Homo sapiens: one gene and its partners. The protein of the gene in region 1 purifies or fractionates together with the protein of each later gene. This does not show direct contact. Each region holds a gene or a part of one and is shown on either strand. Other genes may lie near its edges. The genes, in order: PDLIM5, CACNA1B, UBR3, HERC5, TMOD3, MIB1 and MAP2K1.

Evidence for each region.
Region 2: the proteins of PDLIM5 (region 1) and CACNA1B purify together in Homo sapiens (affinity purification with western blotting, with the first as the bait; one study listed by BioGRID). This does not show direct contact.
Region 3: the proteins of PDLIM5 (region 1) and UBR3 purify together in Homo sapiens (affinity purification with mass spectrometry; one large-scale study listed by BioGRID and IntAct). This does not show direct contact.
Region 4: the proteins of PDLIM5 (region 1) and HERC5 purify together in Homo sapiens (affinity purification with mass spectrometry, with the first as the bait; one large-scale study listed by BioGRID). This does not show direct contact.
Region 5: the proteins of PDLIM5 (region 1) and TMOD3 fractionate together in Homo sapiens (co-fractionation; one large-scale study listed by BioGRID). This does not show direct contact.
Region 6: the proteins of PDLIM5 (region 1) and MIB1 purify together in Homo sapiens (affinity purification with mass spectrometry, with the first as the bait; one large-scale study listed by BioGRID). This does not show direct contact.
Region 7: the proteins of PDLIM5 (region 1) and MAP2K1 fractionate together in Homo sapiens (co-fractionation; one large-scale study listed by BioGRID). This does not show direct contact.

Annotation. Positions count from the first base shown.
Region 1 is NC_000004.12:94,650,942-94,654,441, forward strand, and holds part of PDLIM5 (PDZ and LIM domain protein 5), read left to right. Parts: intron 1-3,500. UniProt on the Homo sapiens protein: May play an important role in the heart development by scaffolding PKC to the Z-disk region. May play a role in the regulation of cardiomyocyte expansion. Isoforms lacking the LIM domains may negatively modulate the scaffolding activity of isoform 1.
Region 2 is NC_000009.12:138,024,282-138,027,781, reverse strand, and holds part of CACNA1B (voltage-dependent N-type calcium channel subunit alpha-1B), read right to left. Parts: intron 2,828-3,500; coding exon 2,610-2,827; intron 1-2,609. UniProt on the Homo sapiens protein: Voltage-sensitive calcium channels (VSCC) mediate the entry of calcium ions into excitable cells and are also involved in a variety of calcium-dependent processes, including muscle contraction, hormone or neurotransmitter release, gene expression, cell motility, cell division and cell death.
Region 3 is NC_000002.12:169,949,454-169,952,953, forward strand, and holds part of UBR3 (E3 ubiquitin-protein ligase UBR3), read left to right. Parts: intron 1-151; coding exon 152-612; intron 613-3,500. UniProt on the Homo sapiens protein: E3 ubiquitin-protein ligase which is a component of the N-end rule pathway. Does not bind to proteins bearing specific N-terminal residues that are destabilizing according to the N-end rule, leading to their ubiquitination and subsequent degradation.
Region 4 is NC_000004.12:88,491,619-88,495,118, forward strand, and holds part of HERC5 (E3 ISG15--protein ligase HERC5), read left to right. Parts: intron 1-1,393; coding exon 1,394-1,537; intron 1,538-2,546; coding exon 2,547-2,713; intron 2,714-3,500.
Region 5 is NC_000015.10:51,888,653-51,892,152, reverse strand, and holds part of TMOD3 (tropomodulin-3), read right to left. Parts: intron 3,098-3,500; coding exon 3,008-3,097; intron 1-3,007. UniProt on the Homo sapiens protein: Blocks the elongation and depolymerization of the actin filaments at the pointed end. The Tmod/TM complex contributes to the formation of the short actin protofilament, which in turn defines the geometry of the membrane skeleton.
Region 6 is NC_000018.10:21,862,792-21,866,291, reverse strand, and holds part of MIB1 (E3 ubiquitin-protein ligase MIB1), read right to left. Parts: intron 1,767-3,500; coding exon 1,626-1,766; 3' UTR 1-1,625. UniProt on the Homo sapiens protein: E3 ubiquitin-protein ligase that mediates ubiquitination of Delta receptors, which act as ligands of Notch proteins.
Region 7 is NC_000015.10:66,431,912-66,435,411, reverse strand, and holds part of MAP2K1 (dual specificity mitogen-activated protein kinase kinase 1), read right to left. Parts: intron 386-3,500; coding exon 175-385; intron 1-174. UniProt on the Homo sapiens protein: Dual specificity protein kinase which acts as an essential component of the MAP kinase signal transduction pathway.

The DNA of each region.
Region 1 (3,500 bases):
CATGTACTTAGTAAGGGCTCACAGGACATCGAATACTAGAAGAGATAGCTGAATACTTAATTCCACTCTGCAGTTATCTAGGCCTGTCATTCCTGTTCACAAATGGAAACCCAATCCTACCTGGAACAAGAAGAACTTCTTTAGTGTTAATCCTGTGTTAATGAATTTGTTAAATTAGTCTTTGCTGACACAGAGAAGAAAACACTTTGCTATATGTGAAAGATTAATTTTATTGTTTAATCTGTGCATAATTTCAAGGGCATTGATGGAGAAAGATGCTCTTTCAGGACAGCCAAGAAGTATCAAGTTAGGCCAGTAGTTGCCCTGAGCATGCTTGTTTAAGAAAGGAGATCTGAGAGGAGCAAGGGTCATTTTCAGCTTGTTTTTTAAAGGTGCAGTGGGAATTTCTTTACTGTCTAAAATTCCTTTTGCTATTTGAAAGGAACTAATGAAATATTTTAAAGTCATCCTTTTAATGGACTGTAGTTTTAATTTATGTATTTATAGTGAACTATATTCCAGCAAGTTTGTAAAAAGACTTTTACAGGTATGTGAAATATAAGATAATCTTATAAATTACAAAAGGGGAAAAAGAATGAAATTCATCGATAGGCTCGTTAAAAATGAAGCTAACGTCGAGACTGGACGATACTAAAATAATGACCTGCCCACTTGCCTCTGGTTAGACTGTAAATCTGGCTTTAGGCCTTCTAGTAGTCTACCAAAAATGAAAGGTAGTTTTGCAATTTACAATAAGATAAAAATAAGACTACTGCTGAGGAAAAGCATAATAGTTCTTGCTGCAGAAATCAGGGAGGAATTTTTCTGAATGAGACCATGTGAAAGTGACGCTGGATGAGATCTAACAACACTCCAGCAACAACTTGCAGGAAGAGCAAGGGTGAATTTCATAGAGCTGTGTCCTGTAACAACTACCAGTACAGGTTCATGTATCACAACAAGCACCGTTCATAAAAGGAATAATCCTGCGGGGTGCAGCAGGCCCAATATGCTGTGATTCACAGAACCCAGTTTTCTGATGATCTGACTTGAACTCAATACATATTTTAGAAAATCTGGCAAATGGAATGTATTTTCCTTGGTCAGTTATTCTTAAATGTCTTTTTTTCTTCTCAGATGAACTTTGTCAAATATTTGATAGCATTGATAGACATGTTCCAGGAGCAGAGCTTTTCATTTTGTTCCAGGTACATACCAACACTTATGCTTTAACAGAATGCAGTTTGAAGTTGGATTGACTTCTTTGAAAACTGAGAAGCCAAATAAGAATACTAGCCTCAAGAGTCCTCCAGCCTTATGGATGAGCTAAAGATGTGCCCTAGTAAAAAACTCACCCTAGTAAATGGCTTTGAATCTGTTTTAATGTGCAGCCAGAGAGTAGCATGAAACCCCAAAGCTCTACCATGCTCTGTGTTATGGTCACAGTAAATTGAGCCTGGAAGATTTTTCATGCGTGTATAACCAGTTGCCCACCTGGCGGAAAAACACAGGGCACTCATCAAACTTTGTCTGGCTTTGAGCAGTGTGATTCCTGGTTTATCTTTGCTGATAAACTACTTGCCAAACATACACTGAGAAAATTAGATGAAGGAACTCGTTGAATAGGATTGTTATTTTATAAGTCAGTTGAAAATGATGGACCACTTACCAAAAGTAATATATTCGATTACAGAATAGGTGATCTGTAGCCTTTCTTTTCTGGCAGGAATTAGTAAACAAAGGCATTCCTTATTAGTCATAACAAAATTATGGTACCCTAAAGTTTTAAAAATAATAATAATAAACTGCCTATCTCAAACTTAAGAGAATGATATGTACTAGCTTATACAAAATGGCATCATGTTATTAATAAGAAACAAGTTAACAAAAAGTAGGGCTAGAAAATACCCTCTTACACCCCACGTAAAAATTTTTAATCACTCATCAAGAGCCTTTCTCCTTTTGTGACTCTTGCAGAATTAGGTGCTGATTCTGAGTAAACATCAATATGGTGACAAAGAATTTACAGTGGGAGATAGTTATTGAATAGCAAGGTTTATGTTATTGTCAGAATTTTAAAAATGCTGTGACTTTGCGATACTCATTGCTATGACTTCTCCTGTTAATAATCTGCCTGGAAGTCTGGTGTCTGATGCTTACCAACAATTACCATGTGGTCGCTTAGGGATGATAAGTGATGTTAATGAGGTCAAAGGCAGAATATCAGTTGACTAGAGCGGCATACTAGAAATCAGGAAATTCAACTTCTGGCCTTGGCTGGGTCAGTGATTTTATGATATTTGTCATATCTTTTGAACATTCTGTACCTTGGCTTCTCCATCTGTTAAACTGAATTCATAATAACTGTCCTGGTCTGTCTCACAGGAATGTTGCATGGACAAATTAGATAAGTGTAAAAGTGCCTTGGAGGTAAAGCTGCTCTATGAATATAAATTAGTGTGATATAGCTACTGAAAAGTATGTTGCAGAGGCTAGAATGGTTAGTCTCTGCAGGCTTCATGACTAGATAAGGCTTCATAATGGATTCCTGCCAAGCAAACCAAGCCCATCTTATCAGTTCATGACCATAAAGTATTTAATGGGGAAAAAAATCTCTTACAAACATTTGTTACCTTGATACAAATGTGTGTTAAAAATCGGTCATGTTGGGGAGGGGGGAGAGGGAAGTTGGTGCACAGTGGGTATAAAATTTCAGTTATACAAGATGAATAAGTTCTAGAGATCTGCTGTACAACATTGTGCCCATAATTAACAATACTACATTGTACTCTTAAAAATCTGTTAAGAGAGTGGATCTCATTTTAAGGGTTCTTACCACAATAAAATTAAATTTTTGAAATAAATCAGTCATATTTGAGTGAAATGAAACCTTTCTGAGTAGTTTCAGACAATTGATAATACCTAGTTTACAGTTCCTGTAGTCATTTTGGAGGGTGAGGACTTGATGTGTTTAGTAAAGTTGAGAAATAAATACATGAAAGAATGTGTGGGGAAGAGAAATTGTGGGGAAGAGAAATTGTCTCAGGTAATAGTTATTACTATTTTTAGCACTATGACTTACCAAATTGAAGTTTTTGTTTGTTTCTTTTGTAGAAGTGTCAAAGTCTCATCTCTGCCTAAACCATATATTTTTTTCTGGTTGCCTCATGTTCTGTCACAGTCACAGTTAACATCCTCATTCTCAATCCTACCCATGATGCAGACAGATTGCCTCATTTCAGCTCAATAAAACATCACCAAATTCCCTTAGGCAGAAAAAGGGTGGGGAGTGCCCTTTCTTGAAGGAATCCCTTAAGTGCACGTCTCCCGTTTTCTTTTCACATCAATGCAGAGTCCCTCTGTGAATTTACAACACCCAACACCCATGAGTTCAGTCCTTAAGAAGGAAAATTGAGCAAGTATTTAATTGGTTGGACATTGCATAAAAGAGGTCCATATCCAGGCTAACTCTAGAAATTTTATTCTCAAACTTAGTTGGC
Region 2 (3,500 bases), on another chromosome or scaffold:
ATTCTAAGATTGCAAAGATATTTCATATCAAAAAATTCATTACTATAAATCCCCATATCTAAGGAGAAAAAAATATATGATCTCTATGGATGCTGAAAAGGTCTTCAAGAAAATTCAACATCTATTCCAGATAAAAACACTTACTGAAGTAGGAACTAATGGATACCACAACATAATTTTACACACACACAAACAGACACACACACACATCCCTCAGGCCCCAAACCAAAATTTTATTTAATGTAGGCGGAAACAAGGTAATGCCCAGTAATTCCATTGTTATCTGATAGTGAAATCAGACAAAAAAATAATAATGAGTGGTGTAAGACTTAGAAAGAGTTAGAAGTATATTTGCAGAAGTTTTGATAATATATCTCGGAAAAAAAGGGGGAATCAGTGAAACTAATAAACAATTTGAGGATTCAGAAAAGTAGCAGGATACATAATCAACATATAAAAACTAATAGCCTAGATTTCTGTTTCTAGTAGAAGTAATAATAGGGACCAGACAATCAGTTGTTTTTAGCAATCGAAAACACCAGACATTAAGAGAATGAAAAACCAAGCCACAAAATGGGAGAAAATGCTTGCAAAAACACATATCTGATGAAAGACTTGTATCCAAAATATACAAAGAACTCCTAAAACTCAACAACTAGAAAACAAACAGCCAGAATAAAAAGTGGGTAAAAGATTTGAATAGGAATCTCATCAAAGAAAATTATACACATGGCAAATAAGCACATTAAAAGATGCTCAACGTCATATGTCATTAGGAAATTGCAAAATAAACAAGATATCATTACACGCTTAATTAGAATAACTCAAATCCAAAACACTGACAACACTGAATATTGGCAAGGATGTGGAGCAACAGGAACTCTCATTCATTGCTGGTGGGAATGCAAAATGGTACAGTCCCTTTGGAAGATAGTTTGTCAGTTTCTTATAAAGATAAACAGTCTTACCATATAATCCAATAAGCATGCTATTAAGTATTTACCCAAATGAGTTGAAAACTTATGTCCACACAAAAACCTGAACATGAATGTTTAAAGCAGTTTTATTCATAATTGCCAAAAATTGGAAGCAACAAGATGTCCTTCAATAGGTGAATAAATAAACTGTGGTATGCCCAAAAGACAGACTATTAATCCAACGCTTAAAACAAATGAGCTGTCAAGCCACAAAAAGACACAAAGGAAACTTAAGTGCATATTGCTAATGGAAAGAAGCCAATCTGAAAAGGCTGCATACTGTATGATTCCAACCCTATGACAGTCTAGAAAAGGCAAAACTATAGGGACAGTGAAAAAATCAGTGGTTGCCAACAGGGGTGTGGGGAAGAGCATAGGGAGCCTGGGGAGGAGTCACATCTGGATTCCTGCAGATAAAAGCCAGGTAGGGAACCTAGGCTCATCCTCAAGCTGATCCACAGAGAATCAGGTGAGGGAGCTGGGCAGGCAGACTCACTTGTGCCCATGGGAAGTGAACAAGAAAATGAACCAAGGGCAACTTTCCTCCAAGGAAGCAAAGGAAAAGGGGAGGCTGAGCAGTTAGAGGCTGTGTCTTCCATGGTTATACCTGGAATTGTGCGCCAGTCCACAGGCCCCAGGTGAGAGCACCTGAGCAAGAGAGAATGTCATGCACATGTGTGTGTCTGGAGATCTGTCTGCAAACATGGGCACGCACACGTCTGTGTGTGCGGATGCATCTGCAAACACGGACATGCACACATCTGTGTGTGGAGATCCGTCTGCAAACATGGGCATGCATGTGGTGGCACCTGATTGAGTCCGTCTGGTCTGCTTAAGACCTAAATGCTTCTGCTGGCATTCATGTGAGTCCTGTTTCTATGGCCTCTCTTCTACCCCTTTTTTCTCTGTACTTAAGAAAGGAGGGCTCCTCCTTGATGCCCATGAAACGCCCATGCACCTTCCCCACCACGTAAGGGGCCTGTATTTGTAACCAGCAGATCTCTCCCTATTAGACAGGTTTCAAGACAGGAATGACATCTTGGTCCCCTGTGCCCTCAGGGACTGCACACAGGCAGGCATGGAAAGGCTGTTCCGAGCATGTGAGTGAGCAAGGGGAGGAAAGAAGGCAGCTCAAATAAAGGCCTGGGAGCACAGCCTCAGAGCAGGGATGGCACAGGCCCATGAACAAATGGGCAGACGCAGTGGAGAGCCTCCTCCTCTGCAGCCCCTCGCTCTCAGCCCCAGTCAAGGCCGTGGACAGAGTCCTCAGCCAGCAGCTTTTGTGCAACCATCAAGAGTTGTGCCTGTTTTGTGGTCTGTCTTCCTGACAAGACTGTCTCCCTCCTACTATGCTCTCAGCACTCTAACACAGCACCTGGCACTTAGTTGGCAACGTGCAAATATTTTGGGAAGGAAGGAGAATGGAGCTCAACCTCAGTTATCTCTGGGGCACTAGAAATCAACAGGACATCAAGGGACAGATGTTGACAGCAAAGGACTCTCTCTCCAGCCAGGAGAACAATTCACAGAGGTAGGCTGGGTCCCCAGTGGCTGCTGTGGAGCAGGAGGGAATGGGGGTTGCTGGACCTGCACAAGATGGGCCCTGCCCCACTGGCACAGGGAGATACTCACTGGGAACGACCGTGGCTTCCCCAAGAGGGCCCGTCAGCATCACTGGGATATGTACAATAGTGTTCGGGTCTGGGGGCTGACTGCCCATGCGAGTGACGTTCCGCTGATTGTCTGCATCCTCTGGCTGTTCCTCCACCTTCTGGAGACAGGTGCTGGGCAGTGTGTGCATGGGACCCACAGTCACAGTCCCACTGGTCTCCAGGTCACAGTGTGGCTCCCTGCAATCAAGAATGTACATCAGGCCTCGGCGCAGTGGCTCACACCTGTGATCCCGGCACCGGGAGGCAGAGGCAGGAGGATCACTTGAGCCCAGGAGTTCAAGACCAGCCTGGGGAATATGGCGAAACCCCATCTCTACAAAAATTAAAAAATTAGCTGGGCGTGGTGACACGTGCATGTAGTCCCAGCTATTCAGGCTGGGAAGGCTGAGGTGGGAGGATCGCTTCAGCCCGGGAAGTTGAGGCTGCAGTGAGCCATGATTGCGCCACTGCACTCCACCCTGGGCGACAGTGCGGTCCTGTCTCCAATAATAATAATAATAATGCACATCAGCAAAATCCTATCAACCAAAACCCTTAAGCCTCCATGCAGACCAACTAAATCCATAACCACCTGCTCTGCTACTCTGGCCTTCTGTACGTTTTTTAAATTACTCTATACACCTCCGTGTCTTTAGTCCGAAAGGCAGGGATGGGGCTGACCCACCCACACACAAAGACAGGGCGGCGGCTGGGTTGACCCTGGGCTGGGGCCTCCAGCGGCAAGTATTCTGGTTGGTTTGTGGCCAGTGGGTACCTGGCGACTGCTGGTCTTGGCCACTGGACCACTGTTACCCCAGGCCCTCACGGGGTTGGTGAGTCCTGCCCCAGGGAGCAAGCTGGGCTAGCTGGG
Region 3 (3,500 bases), on another chromosome or scaffold:
AAGGGAGAAATTTATTTAAAGAGCAAATCTATTGAATAAATCTTTGTATGAAACTGAGCATTCCCTTTAGAAAATATAGTACTAATATGTTTTTAAAATGATGCTAAATAACTTCTCTTGATTTTTCTTTGTTTCTCTTTGTTAATGGTAGAATTCTGGTACAGCTCAAGTTTTCAGTTTAGTAGCAGAACGTAGAAAGAAATTTCAGGAAATCATCAATCGCAGTAGCAGTGAAGCAAATCAGGTGGTTCGTCCCAAAACTTCAAGTAAATGGTCTGCTCCTGGTTCAGCTCCACAGTTAACTACAGCCATTTTGGAAATTAAAGAAAGCATATTGTCTTTGCTAATTAAACTTCACCACAAACTCTCAGGAAAACAAAACTCCTACTATCCTCCTTGGCTTGATGACATAGAAATTTTAATCCAACCAGAAATTCCTAAATACAGTCATGGAGATGGTATAACTGCCGTGGAAAGAATTTTACTAAAAGCTGCATCGCAAAGTAGAATGAACAAACGCATCATTGAAGAGATATGTAGAAAAGTGACCCCTCCTGTACCACCTAAAAAAGTCACTGCAGCAGAGAAGAAAACATTGGACAAAGAAGAAAGGTAATTTTTATTTTTAATGTTTTAAACGTGTGTATAGTTGAAAATTTGATATTTTCTTCCTTTTGGTCATTTGAGGATAATCACCTGGATGTTTAACAGGAACAGTCATAGCTGATTAGTTTGTAACATAAATGGAATGGAGCATAGTCAGTGCTTGTACATGTGATGTATTGAGTTTATTGATGGACAGGTGAGACTTTCTGACCCCAATGTAAAATTACTACCTTAAACCTGTGTGTCTCTTTGGAAAAATTGCTACTGCTTTTATTGCTGTAGGGATCTAATAATTCTCTTACTGTTAAAGTTGAACTGTTCAGCTTTAAATGAGAATATTAAAAATATTTAAAATATTTCTCAAAATAAAAATCCAACTGCTTTAGTTTCTTTTGGTCTTTTCTAATCTTTATTAATATATGATTGCTGATTTTTAAAAAGTGATGTTTTAAAACACATTCTGACTAACTTATGCTTCTAGCTTTTGGATCTTTAGGTTGCTTATAATTTGTTGTTAAATTATATTTATAAACTTTTTTTTCATCTTTTGACTTTCTTGAAAAAAAAATGGGATTTTTTTAAAATCTCAAGATATATACTATGTTATGTGGGGTTTGTGGGTCAAGGACTATGAGCATGGTTTGGTTCTTTTTTTTAGTGGTACATTGTTTGCCAGAAGAGTTGTGTTACTGTGCATTGTCACAAATTGTTTCCCAAGAGCCTTGTCAACATTGCTGACCCTGCTGTCATAAACATGACAAGGTGAATCTTGAGAGATTGAAACTCTGCATAATTGTCAAACTCTTGGAAAGGGTTCAGTGTTTATTAAAGAAAAAAAAAAAGAGCATGCCTTCTAATGAGTGTACACAGGCTAAAAGACCCAGGACATTTAAAAAAAAGATTTCAGATCAAATTCAAGATAGTCATTGCTCACTTCTCTGAGGTTATAAATAATATTCATTGTTTTAATTTCTTTATTATTTAAGACAAATTTGTCTACCAAAGCAACAATTATAGGGGAAGGGTACACATTTCCCGTTAGGGAGGGTCCAAAGAGATCACATCAATATTATCTTAATTTAAGAACCTAGGACCTTTATCATCTCAATCTGTTTTATATAGGTAAAAATCATTGTCAACAGAGTTATCTGGACTACTGTTGTGAGCAGTATGACTAATACATTATTTAGCAGTTTGAAGTGTACTTTAGAGGTATTTTCTGGATAATTTCATCTTCTTAGTTACTTTTAAAATTAAATATAGGCAGTTATGGGTTAAATGATCAGTGGAAGCAAGCCTAAGATGGATCTTACTTGATTGATCCGTTTCTCATTCATTGGGTGTCAGTCAAGCAGTTTTCTAGACATATCTGTGTCTGGTGTTGGACTTCCTGACCTCGAGGAATTGATACTATAATGGAGAGACAGACTGGTAAACAGATAGTTTGTTAGTAGTGTTAACATAGTGTAACAGATACTATCTTAGGTACACAGGGTGTTAATGGGAGTAGTAGGACATAAGGCTAAGAAGGTAACCATGTATCGTTAACTCGCACAGGGTATAAATGGTTACAGGGAAACTGTGGAAGGATTTTAAGTGAGGAATAATATATAGGGTAATTACATGAGGGTAGATTAGAGTGGGGTAAGACTGGAAATTGGGAGAGCAAGCTACTTAGTCATCTAGTGGGGCAGGTGTGGTAAGGGTCTGAACTAAGACAGTGATGATAATAAAGAGAGGAGGAGATGTGTATGAGATATTTAGCAGGTACAAGTTGTTAGACTCAGTCATCAGGTTGATGTGAGAAATGAGGGAGATGTCTTGAATGGTGCCCTGATTTCTGACTTGAATAATGTTCCTTTTACCAAGATAATGGAGTGTAGGAGGGGTCCCAGGCTCATTAGTAAAAGTGATCTGTTCAGTTCTGGACGCTACTAAGTTTAAGAGGGACACCCAGGTGAAGGTGTCCAGTCAGATATAGGGTTTAAAACTTAAGGGAGAATTCTTAGAGCTACAGATTTGAGCAGCTAGGTAGTAGTAAATCCTTGTATATGGGAGAAGGTTTACAGTAAGAAAATGAGAAGACTGAATGTAGAACTTAAGGGAAAAACATTAAAGGGAATGACTGAGGAAGGGGTACCTACAAAGGTGACTGACGAAGGGATGGCTGAGCAGAGTAAGAGAAAAACTGGGGTGAGTGGCATTAGAGAAGTCACAAGAGGAAGTTCAGAAAGCAAGAAACTTATCAAAATTGTTAAGTGCTACAGGAGTTCAATAAGATTGGCCATCCTATTTGATTTGTTAGTTAGGAGGTCATCCGTTGGTACCTGTATAAGGAGCAATTTTAGTCACATATATAGTTACACTACATCTCTGATGTAATTAAAAGTTTGTTGGGAGGCCGAGGTGAGTGGATCACAAGGTCAGGAGATCAAGACCATCCTGGCCAACATGGTGAAACCTCGTCTCTACTAAAAACATAAAAATTAGCTGGGCGTGGTGGCGTGTGCCTGTAGTCCCAGCTACTAGGGAGGCTGAGGCAGGAGAATTGCTTGAACCTGGGAGACAGAGGTTGCAGTGAGCTGAGATCGCGCTGCTGCACTCCAGCCTGGCGACAGAATGAGACTCCATCTCAAAAAAAAAAGTTTGTTATAAAAAATTTATATTAATATATGCAAAAGCTTATGGTAGATTAAGAATTTAGGAGAATTCCTAAATTGGAGTTATAAAGAACTAACACAAAATTTGTTTCCGTGGGAGAAAGGACATTCAGTAACATATAATTCAGATGACCATTCATTAAGTTTGAATTAGTAATAGCCTAGAATGTAATAAATCTACTGACAAAATTAGAAGGTTGAAAATGAGGTAAGATTGTTATTTTTGTTAATTAG
Region 4 (3,500 bases), 6.2 Mb from region 1:
AGTCCTTGGAGCTTGGGGATTTACAGTTCTTGTTCTTCTTGGAGAGACCCATTTAAGTGGAGAAGTGGGTTTGGAAGTTGGCGTATATCTCTGAAGTTTGGCAAGAGTGGAAGGAGCCCGTGTTTGTATTGGAGACAATGTGTTGGGATTTTTTTTTTCCTTTTAAGGTTAAGGGGGACCTTAACATGTTTGTGAATGGAAGTGAAGGATTCCAGGAAAAGGCAGGAATGGAGGGGTGACTGAAGGAGCAAAGATGGGTTATGATAGCATCCTCTTGGGAGGGATTGGTGTCAGCAGTAGGGGTGCAGCCTCCTCGGGGAGCAAACAGCCACTTCAGCAAACACCTTATGTGTGCTCTGGTTTTTTGAATATCCTGATTTTTATTATTTATTTATTTATTTTTGAGACAGAGTCTCACTCTGTTGCCCAGGCTGGAGAGCAGTGGTGCGACCTTGGCTCATGGCAACCTTCATCTCCCGGGTTCAAGTGAGTCTCCTGCCTCAGCCTCCTGAGTAGCTGGGATTACAGGTATGCATCACCACACCCAGCTAATTTTTGTATTTTTAGTAGAGACGGGGTTTCACCATGTTGGCCAGACTGGTCACGAACTCCTGACCTCACATGATCCGCCCACCTCGGCCTCCCAAAGTGCTGGCATTACAGGTGTGAGCCACCACGCCCGGCCAATTTTTATGATTTCTTTCTGTTTATTTTTATTATACTTGGATCTGGTGACTATAATAGTGATGCCAGTTGAGGTCAATTTAGGTAAAACTTTTACCTAAAGTGGTAAAAACTTTAGGCTCTGGGGTTTGACTGATAAAGGATTAAATTTAGGCTGTAGGCCGGGTGTGGTGGCTCATGGCTGTAATCTCAGCGCTTTGGGAGGCTGAGGTGGGTGGATCACTTGAGGTCAGGAGTTCAAGAGCAGCCTGGCCAACACAGTGAAACCCCGTCTCTACTTAAAATACAAAAAAATTAGCCAGGCGTGGTGGTGCATATCTGTAATCCCAGCTACTCTGGGGGCTGAGGCAGGAGAATCGCTTAAACCCAGGAGGCGGAGGTTGCAGTGAGCCGAGATCAGACCACTGCACTCCAGCCTAGACAACAGAGTGAGACTCCATCTCAAAAAACAAAACAAAACAAAAAAACTAGGCTGCACCACCTGACTATTGTATAAACTTGGAAAAGTTATTTAAATTCTCAAGGCCTCGTTATCTCATAGAATTAATGTAGAGATTAAATATGATAATATAAGTAGGATACTTACCTCAGTGCCTTCCAAATACTTGGGTCCACAATTAATGTTAGCTATTTACTATTATTAAATGAGACTTCATATATAGCAATATAGAGCCCTGGAAGTGATGTATTATTTGCTCTGTTTCCTCAGGTTTCATTTAGTGGAGAAATTGGGTATGACCTCGGAGGAGTCAAGAAAGAGTTCTTCTACTGTCTGTTTGCAGAGATGATCCAGCCGGAATATGGGATGTTCATGTATCCTGAAGGGGCTTCCTGCATGTGGTTTCCTGTCAAGGTAAGTTCCCTCTTCTTTGCTTAAGGTATTTTGCGACAGAAAAAGTACACCATATACCATAGAAAATTAGTTTGTCTAGACTATTTCATGTTAGAAGAGGAGTATTGATATAATTATGGAGATAATGTATAATTCTAATAAGGTGATTATTTTCTTTAAAATGGAGTTTCCTTTTCCTGGGTTCCCATGTCTGTTCACATCGAACTCAAGCAATATATTTTTTGATCATTTATATAATGCATGGATTAAAAAGGAACCCTCTCTTTTTTAGGTACTCATTCTTTGTGTCAGTTCTGTTTTCCTAATGAATTTGAAGACAAAGGCTGTGGAAAGAAATTGTGAAAACTAGTTTATAAGGATTACTGAACCTAATGTATTTTTATTGCTGGTATGCTTTTAGGAACCAAAACTGTGGCAGGGATTTATTTGGTTTTTTATTTGTTTGTTTGTTTTGTTTTGCTTTATTTTTGAGACAGAATCTCACTCTGTCACCCAGGCTGGAGTACAGTGCCATGATCTTAACTCACTGCAACCTCCGCCTCCCAAGCTCAAGCCATTCTCTTGCCTCAGCCTGGCGGGATTACAATAACTGGGATTACAGGCTCCTGCCAACACACCTGGGTAGTTTTTGTATTTTTTGTAGAGATGGGGTTTCACCAGTTTGGCCAGGCTGGTCTCAAACTCCTGACCTCAGGTTATCTGTCCACCTTGACCTCCCAAAGTTCTGGGATTACAAGCGTGAGAGTGGCAGGGATTTAAATTGACTTAATGACCAAATATTAGGTTGGTGCAAAAGTAATTGCAGGTTTTGCCTTTACTTTTAATGGCAAAACCTGCAATTACTTTTGCACCAACCTAATATAAACCCTAAACATTCTTATCTCAGGCTTTAAATTTTTCAATTTGAGATTTGATTTTATGAAAGAGAAACAAAGATTTATTTAATATAAATATTTCATTGTACTGGTAAAAACTCATAATACTTTAAGATTTTTTTTTCGCTTTTCAGCCTAAATTTGAGAAGAAAAGATACTTCTTTTTTGGGGTTCTATGTGGACTTTCCCTGTTCAATTGCAATGTTGCCAACCTTCCTTTCCCACTGGCACTGTTTAAGAAACTTTTGGACCAAATGCCATCATTGGAAGACTTGAAAGAACTCAGTCCTGATTTGGGAAAGTAAGTAAACAGAGTTCCTGAGAAAGGACCCTTTCTAACATATATTTAGGCAAATATTTAAGTACACACGCTTCATAATATTTCCATGTTCAACAGCAGCATTTTAGGTACTTTAGACCAGTTTTAACTTTGACAAGAATTGTTGGATGATAATTTCGTTTTCTAAAATTAGGAAGTGTTGATTATTCCCATAACTAGACTTCAATGTTTGCATTAATCTTTCAACTTTTTCTGTGTAGGAACAGTCATGCACAGAGCACAGGTTACACCTTGGTGCAAAATCTGCTAGTGATATTTATGTTAAATGTTGTTTCATGTCATCACCTTTAAAATGGAAACTTATTTCTAAGTTAAAAGACAAGCCACCACCTCACCAAAAAATGGCAACAGTAAAAGGGTTTTCATATCCCTGCTGTGTAAAGCATTCCTACACATCCGTAAGAAATATTCACAAAGTATCCAAGAAGGCAACCTGGCAAAGAAGCAATAGAAATGCTTCCTAAATAAAAATGTCTTCAATCTCACCAGTGCTCATAGAATGCATATTAACGTGAGAGGCTAATTTATACTTCAAGTTGACAGTGGTTTGAAGTGTTGATGCTATATAGTATTAGCAAGGGCTTGAAAACTTTCATTTTAATTTCAGGTATTATTCGTGGAAATATAAATTGGTACTCCTTTTCAGAGAACAGTGTGGCAGGACTTAGCAAAATCAAAACATATTTGCCTTTTCAACTCAACAATTCTACTTCTAGACATTTAACTTTCAGAAATACACAACCATGCA
Region 5 (3,500 bases), on another chromosome or scaffold:
ATCTTGAGACAGGGTGCACTGATTATCCAATAAATTCCATCTAAGAGTATCTTGTTACTTTCAAATATCACACACACACAGCATCTTGAGAAGATCAACTTAGATGAAGGTTTGAAAATTACTTTCCCGAGGTCAGGTGAAAAATCTGAATATATTTAGTCTGGAGAAGTACCTATTAAAAGAAGTTATCCTAGCTGTTTTCAGATTTATCCTGTAGAAGTTGAGAAGAGACAAATTTAGTGCTGTTCTGAGAGGCTGCGTTAGAACAAGTATAGATTGCCAAGAAGCAGAACTTGGTTCAAGACAAGGAAAAGCTTCCTAATGGAGCTCTGCTAAACAACAGAGAGTGGGATCCCTCTCACTTAAGTTCAGCAAGGTAGTCTTCAAGATAGCTAGGGAAGAACTTCCTCATTGAATGGAAAATTGAATAGTTCTAATTTTATAAAACCAAAAGATTTCTTTCCCCATTCCACACATCCTGTGGAGTGGGGAAAGATGGAATGGGGAGAGAAATCTTAAGAGCCTTGCCCCTTAATGAAATAATGAATCCAGTCAATGGGATGCAGGAATTATTAAGCAAAAGGTTCATGGGAAACTTAAAAAGGATGGGTCAGGCTGCCTACATTTGAACCCTGTGATCAATCTCATTCCCCCAAAGAGGAAGGATTAGACTTCATAAGCTTCTTAATATGATTCAGTCACCACCCATGAAGCATTCTTGCCAAAAGGGACCTGCACCTGCATCTCATCAAGCCACTAGAACTAACAGTTTACAGAAACATAGGTGATAGAAAAACATAAAATGATACCATAAGGTTGAAATCAGCCAAATCCAGAATGTGGAAAATTCTACGAAAAATAAACCCAGTTTCTTAAAAAATAAATGGCACAGAAAAAAAAAAAAAAAAGGAAAGAGGTTGGGGAGGAGAACTGTTAAGAAATTAAGGGAGACTAAAAAGACAAACAACCAAATGCAGTGTGTAACCTTTTTTGAGCCAATCATGAAACGACATTTTGGAGAGAACAGAGGAAATCTGGACACAGACTGGGTATTACATGATATGAAGAAAATACCGTTAATTTTTAAGTTTGATGATGGCATCATGATTACATTAAAAGAAAAGCCTTTATTTGTGAGACACACATATGGAAATATTTATAGGTATGTAATACAAATGAACAGGGTTTGCTTTAAAATACGTCAAGAAAAAAAAGTAGAAGGGTTAGGAAGGGAGACAGAAGATGAATAAAACAAGGCTGGCAAATGTTAAAAACAGCGGAAACTGGGTAATGAATATATTATTCTCTCTTCTTCTATGTGTGTTTGAACATTTCTACAATAAAAACTTAAAAATGAGAAGGGGGATGGTCAAATTACAAAACATCGTAGAAAGGAATGTTATACACATGTCTGAATGATGTAGATGTATACATATTAACTAGAAAACACGGTCGACTGCTAAGTGATACACTATATAACACGGGTTAAAATCCTTACCACTGACTTTGTGTAAAATATTGAGGTTACCCAATTATTTTAAAATGTCAGCTTTCTCACATGCAAATTAAAAATAATAATATCTATTTCATAGAACTGTTGTCAGGGCTAATAAGAGTACTTCACGTCCAAGAGCTGTGCACACAACATGGCCCACAGTAAGCATTCAAAAACAGTTGGCCAGGCACAGTGGCTCATGCCTGTAATCCCAGCACTTTGGGAGGCTGAGGTGGGCAGATCACCTGAGGTCAGGAGTTCGAGACCAGCCTGGCCAACATCGCAAAACCCCATCTCTACTAAAAAAAAAAAAAAAAAAATTAGCTGGACAAGGTGGCGTGCACCTGTCAAATCCTAGATACTCAGGTGGCTAAGGCAAGAGAAGCGCTTGAACCTGAGAGGCGGAGGTTGCAGTAAGCCAAGATGGTACCACTGCACTCCAGCCTGGGTGACAGAGCAAGACTCCGTTTCCAAAAAAAAAAAAAAAATTAGCTAATAGAATTATTATTGAAAAATTAAGTTGCAATAAATATTTACAGTATAATCGATTTTTTGTAAAAAATAAGAGACTATGTATAATATGTATACATTAGTATAAACAGTGCAAAGCCTGGAAGGGTATATACAAAATTGTTAACAGGGTAGGTGGTGTTTGGGGAAGTAGAGGGCATGATGGCTGGAGACAGAGACACTTTTACCTCTTCCCATAAATACTTATGTACTGTTTAAATGTGCTACAAAGGCATGTATCACCTTGCTAATTTAAGAACACCCTATACATGAATTTATTTTTTGAGATAGGGTCTTGCACTGTTGCCCAGGCTCGAGTGCAGTAGTGTGATCACAGCTCACTGCAGCCTCAAGCTCCTGGGCTCAAGCCATCCTCCCCTCAGCCTCCCAAGTAGCTGAGACTAGAGACATGTGCCACCATGCCCAGCTAATTTTTAAAATTTTTTAGAGATGGGGGTCTACGTTTCCAATGCTGGTCCTGAACTCCTGGACTCAAGCAATCCTCCTGCCTCAGCCTCAGAAAATGAAATTACAGTCATGATCCACCACACCTGGCCCCTATAAATGAGTTTCTGAAAAGCTTTGCTTTAGGCTATATAATACTTCACATCAGACTGAAAGGTTTAGGGGCTGAATAGTTTTGTGGTATCTCCTGAATCTGATTTTATAATGTAATTTCTTTGTAAGTACTGTTATGTATTTCTTGAAAATTAGTAGTAGTGATAATAAAATGTCAACAAAACCAAGTTGGACTAGCTTTTATACTGTTTAGCATTATTTAGTGAGGTAGAGTGGTTCTTATTACATTTGCTGACCCATTAAACACAAAATATTTAATACTCTATTTTCAATGGCTTTCTTGGTTAATACCACCAAACTGAAATGTCAGGTTTCAAGTACATATATATAACATCTAGTATGTGAACACTTAAGCTGACACAAGGCGAAAACAAAATATATTTAATAAAGGATTAGAATTCACAAAGCATTTTAAGTACTCACTTGAAAAATGTTCTTGGTCAACACCATTACTACTTCCCATTATATTACAGAACTTTGTATTCGTTATCAAATTGTGCATCCCAAGAATTGCTATAAATACAGAAAAAGAAAGTTTTTATTGTTTTAAACATGAAGAGTTTTACAACTAAAAATTTCTATCAATAATTTTAATATCCTCTGGACCTTTTCCTATAAATTACAGATCACACACCCACACAGAAAACAAAATGATTAAAAATCACCTATAATCTCATTCTCCTCAATACTCTTATTATTTTCCCCCACATTTCTAAATTTACATTTCCCCACATTTCCAAATTCAGAGTTGGAGGCAGCCTAATCCTGAACATAAATCTATGCTTAGCTCCATCTAGTGGCTAAGAGAGAAAATGGAAATGATCTATTTTTGCCGTTCATTAATTTCACAAGGTTTCTAGGAACATAATATGACAAAAAGCAGATTTTTAACTTAACCTTCATATTTTAATGTGTG
Region 6 (3,500 bases), on another chromosome or scaffold:
AATTGTTGAGACTACAAAACCAGCCAGCAAAGCTCCCCATTGCTTTCACCAGGACTTGCAAAGGCAGCAAGGATTAAACAGCCAGAAACAGTGTAAGAGGGCTAGAGACTTCATACTTTCAAATTTAGTTGGTGTTCTATAAAAACTGAAGTAAGAAAAGCTAGCCAGATTTAAAGGAGGGAAAAAAACTACAAAAGAGGATAACTATTTTTAGGAAAAAGCTTATCAACAGCATATAGTAGACACTATGTAAACACCTGATATAATCTAGCAGCAATGAATCCCCAAACATTTATGTGTATATTTACTCAGGAGACAATAAGATTACAAAGGAGATAAAAGGAGAAAAAAAATGATTAAATGCTCCAAAAATTTTGTTTGTTTTTAAAGTCTACAGGTAAGCAGACATTTCTATACATGTCCTGGTCACTCTTTCTAAAGTATTTATAATTAGGTTATTGACCATGTCTTGGATATTGTTGGCAGTTTAAATAATACCCTCATCCGTAGGTATACACAGAAAGACTGTTTTCTTTATAACAAAAAATACTATAAAGAAAGAGATAATGGAAATAAGGCCTATAATGAAGACAGAATCACTAACACTGTCAGAATTAACTGATACAGAGAAGAAAAGATTTTTTCTTGGAAAAGGCATTAATTTTGCAGATCACTGGGATACTATGTACATCTGCAAAGCTAAATAGAACCTCAGAGGTCCAAATAGGGCAATGTCATTTCACTGGTCAGATCAAGCCCAGATAAGTAATCACAGAAAACCGGAAGTACACTTTTCATAGATTTTTTTTAAAAACACTGGCTGAACAAAATAGTGTATAAATTAATGTAAGAAAGGCAACTGTTAGTGGCCAGTTAATAGATACTCGTTTTTTTTTTCTCTTCAGTTGCCCACTATTATTGCTTATTTTTCCTTTTCTTGTCTATCAGTCACCTTGAAACTGGTAATCTGATTCAAGTTAAACAATGTTCCTTTTGAATCTAGAAAACAAGAGAAATGCAAAGTCATTATTCCCTCATTCTATGCTTCCATTTACTCTAAGAATTCAGAAACAAACATGTGGGTAACTTCCTGTTATCTTAAAAAAAGAATCATCCCTTCGGTATTCCCTTAACTATCTGGAACTTGTACTGTCATTTTATAATTTACCATGTGACATAATTGTTTGACCTGCCTCTTTTATTTGATGCATGACTTCTCAGAGAACCTGTTATCAACTCACTGTGTAAAACCACGATGAAATGAAGGATAACTGATCACAAAGAATTATGTCTTTTGAGATCCAACAAATTTACAAATTATAAGAGAAAAATGCAATTTTTTAAAAAAGGATATCCTTAAAGGACTTTCCTCTTAGAAGCCAAAGGTAAATTATCCTATGAGTTACATGAATTTGATGTTTCAAATTTAAAACAAAAACAAAAAACACAATTTCCAACACCATTTTGTAGGGTTTTTTGTTCTGGTACATTTACAGCCCAATTATACTCTAGTAAAGAAACTATGATATTAGAAATTAACTCATCAGAACTTCCAACTAGATCAAAAGCCTATTAAGATCTCATGACTAGATACATTAGCTAACAAAATACACCATGTGTCTTAGTTAATACAAAAGAATCCTTCGTTCAATAGCCTTGCGACAGATAGGACATTCACTCATGCGGTCTCCACAGAGTTGACAGGTTCCGTGACCACAAAGGAAAATCATATTCTTCAGACGATCTAGACACACAGGGCACATTGTCTGTAATGTGAGATAACAAAGTAATAAATTAGACACTTTATATTTGGAAAGTGACAGACTGTTATATATCATTAATTTTCTTTAGTTGTTTTAGTCAAATAATATTTTGGTGGTTTTTAAAAACAATTTTTTAACATTTTTAAATAGTTAAAATGTCATCCCTATAAAATAAAATAGAAACACTGGTTGTACTATCAGGATAGTATGAAAGGTACTACATAAGATTAAAAACTATTAATATATAAAACACAGCCAGACACCCTGGCTCACACCTGTAATCCCAGCTACTCAAGAGGCTGAGGCGCGAGAATCACTTGAACGCGGGCAGCAGAGATTGCAGTAAGCCAAGATCGCGCCGCTGTGATAGAGGCAGGAGGCAGAGAAATTCTAGGCAGACAAGGGTGGGTCCCCAGTGAAACCCAACCTTTGAGCTGAAAAGCCTGAAACCCACAGGCCAAAGTGAGAACTTCTATTCCTGCTTGCCCACTCTCTCCCAATTGGTTCTTTCTTTCTTTTTTTTTGAGATGGAGTCTCACTCTGTCGCCAGGCTGGAGTGCAGTGGCGCAATCTCGGCTCACTGCAACCTCCGCCTCCTGGATTCAAGTGATTCTACTGCCTCAGCCTCCTGAGTAGCTGGGACTACAGGTGCGCACCACCACACCCAGCTAATTTTTTTGTATTTTTAGTAGAGATGGGGTTTCACCATGTTGGTCAGGATGGTCTTGATCTTCTGACCTCGTGATCTGCCCACCTCAGCCTCCCAAAGTGCTGGGATTACAGGCATGAGCCACCACGCCCAGCCCAACTGGTTCTTTCTAAATAATGTCTTTTTACCAATCGATTGTTGCCTTTTCCAAAACTACCCACAGCCCACCCTGCCCACTCCTCCCATGTTGTGCCTTTAAAGACTCCAGACCCAGGTAGTAGAGGGGAGAGAGGCAACTTGACTTCAAAGGGATGACTGGACTTCGGAGGAGAGATGGCTTAACTTCAGGGAAGAGATGGCCGGACTTCAGGGGAAGATTACCTACCCGTCCCACCCCCACTCCAGTTCCCCTCTCTGCTGAGAGCCATTTCCATCACTTAATAAAACTCTCTGCCTTCACCATCCTTCAAGTGTCCAGGTGACCTCATTCTTCTTGAACACTGGACAAGAGCTCGGGACACACCGAGTGTGGGTACCCAAAATAAGGCTGTTACACTGGCCCTTTGCCCTCACTGGCGGAGGGCAGCTACCCCACACTATGAGGCAAGGGGCCAACTGAGCTGATAACACACCGCTGTCCGTGGACGGCAGAACTAAGAGAGCACTCTAACATGCCCTCAGGGGCTTTGGAGTCGCAGGCACCCCCACCTGGGTGCCGCTGCATGGATCCTGCAATTGCTCGTTCATGTGCTCCCTCCCGCAAACAGTTGAGCACAGTGGCCAAGTAAGCAGCGCACCTCTGTCGCAAGTATGACAAAGGGGTTGAGAAAAATCCTGCATCAACTGCTCTCCAGCCTGGGCGACAGAGCAAGGACTCTGTCTCAAAACAAACAAACAAAAAAACCTATATAAACCAAAACGTAATAGGAAATGGATGAAAATAGCTCCATTCAGTCTAACTGAAATTCCCTGAATCTAGGTACTCAGCTGCTCTTGCATAAAAAGAAGGCAATGTATCATGCAATACATGGTGCAGGGTGGGGAGCAGTGCTGAGAAGTAGCTGAGAACACTTGTCAGGCACTATGCT
Region 7 (3,500 bases), on another chromosome or scaffold:
GGAGGTTGCACACCAGCCTGGGCAACAAGAATGAAACTCCGTCTTAAAAAAAAAAAAAAATTCAAACAGCACAAAAAGGTATTGAGTAAAATCAGTCTTCCTTCTACCCTGGTCCCCAGGCTTCTAAGTACCCTGAGAAATAATCCAATTACCTGTTAATCAAGGCAAACTCACCTTTCTGGCCATGACCAGGCCAGAAGGCTTGTGGGAGACCTTGAACACCACACCGCCATTGCCAGCCCCCAGCTCACTGATCTTCTCAAAGTCGTCATCCTTCAGTTCTCCCACCTTCTGCTTCTGGGTAAGAAAGGCCTCAAGGCGCTTTCGCTGCTGCTCATCAAGCTCTAGCTCCTCCAGCTTCTTCTGCAAGGCCTCCAAGTTGGTCCTGTTCCAAAGTGGGGAGCACAAGTCAATACTGTCACCAGAGAAGTCAACCCAAAGAAGTACTCCTATCATGGAAAGAAAGCTCCAGGTCTGGGGCCAGACAGATAATCAAAGTGGGAGGCTAGAGAGGAGGCCCCCTCCCACTGTGGCTCTGCCCACTTCACTCCAGCCACCCGGGATGACTATCACCAACATGCTTTACCTCTCAGGGCTTCAATTTCCTCATTTATAAAGTGAAAAAATTAGGTCTTTCTCACTCAGTATGCTGCAAGTCAATGAGAGGAACAAAAGAACCTACTAAAATCCAGAATGAGCCACCTTAATTTGCTTTAAAACCCCAGTTTAAAAAGCCCCACTACTGTTGGTTTTATTGTTTTTACCATACGCAAAATAAAATACCCTAAATTCACTAAAATGAAATCAAACCAACTTTAAACTGAATCACAACAGTAGAAATCCTCATTTTCAATGTAATCAGGTCCAGGAACCAGGTTAATCAAAAAAGTCACAGCAAAAAATCATAAAAATTACATATCTAAAATTCTTATTTTTACTCAATGTATATAAATCTGCATTCATTCGCCCATTCTTTAACATAGGGCAAGACTCTTTGAATAAGGGTCCAAAGAGGACCCACTGGTTAAGAGGTCCACATCATCCTTCGCACATGGACCAGAACATAATACATTGTCGACAATTTCCTATTCCTGATTTGTTAAAGCTGGTTAAAGTTATATTGTGATTACTTGCAGAGTAATCACAATATAAAATTCTAGAGTTTTATGATTTCCCCCAATCTTAATGTTCATCTAGTTTGACAGTAATGTGTTTTAGTGACTTGGACTTATAAGTCTTTCCACAGCTTTTAACTAGTGTTCATAGGGGAAAAAAATCACTTCATTTGCAGCTACATTTCATCAGTTTATCTGATACCTAAATACATTACTTAACTACAATACCAGCTACAGCTGAACAAATGGGTTTGGGAACAAGCTGGCTCTTGGTAAGCACATAATTCAGCCAGTGGGTGCTGAAGCGAGTGGGTATGGCAGAGAGCAGCCTGCCTGCAGTGCATTCAGCATGCTGTGGGCATTGCTCAAGAGTGTTTCATCCAGGGAACTGAAAAGTGTTCATCACTCCTGTGAGTTGGTTAACAGGAAGGTGGTAAGAGTTTCCACTGTGTTTCACTGGATTTCATTGGGTTTCAAATTGAAGTCCCGGGAGGTGAAGCATGTCAGTGACAATTGTGTGGGGTGGCTGAAGTGACACAGGTGACAAGATAGGCCTTCATTATACATCATCATGTTGGTGTTCCTGCCAACACACACACCCCAGTTCTGAGCTTAAAAGATAGAGTAAGCATAATCTGCTCTTCCTTCACACCCTCTATCCCAAACCTCTAGAAGACAGGGAAATGAAGACTTAATGCCTCTCCATGTATGAGGAGATCTGACACTGCCTTACAAATAACATCATGCATGGGACCAAAGAAGATGCAAGGCCGAGGTTACTGATTTTCCTCACTGATTTTCCCCCCACCCCACCTGCTGCACACATCAAAGAAAGGCCATGCAAGCACACAGTAGGAAGGCAGCTATCTGCAAGCCAGGAAGAGGGCTCTTGCCAAAACCCAACCATGCTGGCACCCTGCTCTTAGACTTTCAGCCTCCAGAACAGTGGGAAAATAAACTATTGTTGTCTAAGCTACTTAGTCTATGATATGTTATCATAGCAGTCCAAGCAAACTGAGGCAGCTACTCAATATTTTCATCCAAGGTTCGGCTATGTCTTGCAGTGTCCCCAGTCCCTAAGGTGTGGGAACCCAGAACATGTGTGGCTGGGGGTGCACAGTGCACACTCTCTGGTTTCCTTTCTCCAAGGTCTCCCCACAAAGGAGCTTACTGAGGACCACATTTAGAAACACATGTCAAATGTAGATGGACCCCACAGCTAAAACCTGAGTGAGGTTACAGCTGCCTGACAGGCTCAGCAGGCCAGCTAGAAATGCAGATTCGAAAAGCTGTCAACACACACACACACACACACACACACACACACACACACACACTGTGCATGATGGGGGAATGGAAGGAGGGCTGCATGGAAGAAAAACTGCTTTCCTCACAACACTGTGTAACTCTCCTCAGTGCTTTACATTTATTAAGTCATTTAATCCACAACCCCTAATTAGAACAGATGAGCAAACTCAAGCACAGACAGGTGAACTAAGATGTCAAAGGTCAAAGAGCTGGTAAGTGGCACAGCCACGTTTCAAATTCAGGCAGAGAGAACGAATGTCTTACCTTAACCATGATGCTATATTATCTTCAAAAAGCTCAATACTTTCAAGGGAGGCAACTGACAAACATGGGTAAGATCCCAGTGTGAGGCATTTAACACACCAGGCCTCAATCATACATAAAGATGGTGTGCCCTACACAAAAAGGCCTTTGCACCAGAGACAATCCTGTCTCCCCTGCACATCAATCTGATGATGGATCTGCTGGAGCAGATTAACACTGCCTTGCAGCTAATACTCGCCATAGAAATTCAATCAATTTGCAAAGGAAAAGGGAATGCTGACTCTGTTCACTTTTCTGACTCTTTGAAATAAGTAATTCTTACACCTTCTGGAGGAAAAACTAAGCCTGAGCTTTGTGCTTCCTTTCTCCCTCCTCTACCTCCTATGCCTTGCCGTTTAACCACCCACCCTACCAGCTAATGAACTGGCTTCTGACCTGTACTTTCAGAAGCTGGCCAGTGAGAGAAATGACAAAGACTATAGGCTGGGGTGGTAAAGACTTTCCTAATGGCAGGTGTGTATGGATGAGGACTGGAGATGGAATCGTGTTGACAAATCACTAGTATTCAAGAGTCCTGGATTCTTATCACAAATTGTTCATCAACCAGCTGTGTGACCATGGACAAGTCACTTAACCTTGCCACATTTCAGATTTCTCCTCTATATATCATGGAATACTATGCAGACATAAAAAGGAACGAGATCACGTCCTTTGCGGGAACATGGGTGGAGCTGGAGGTCATTATTCTCAGCAAACTAACGCAGGTATACAAAACCAAATACCGCATGTTCTCACTAGTAAGTGGGAACTGAA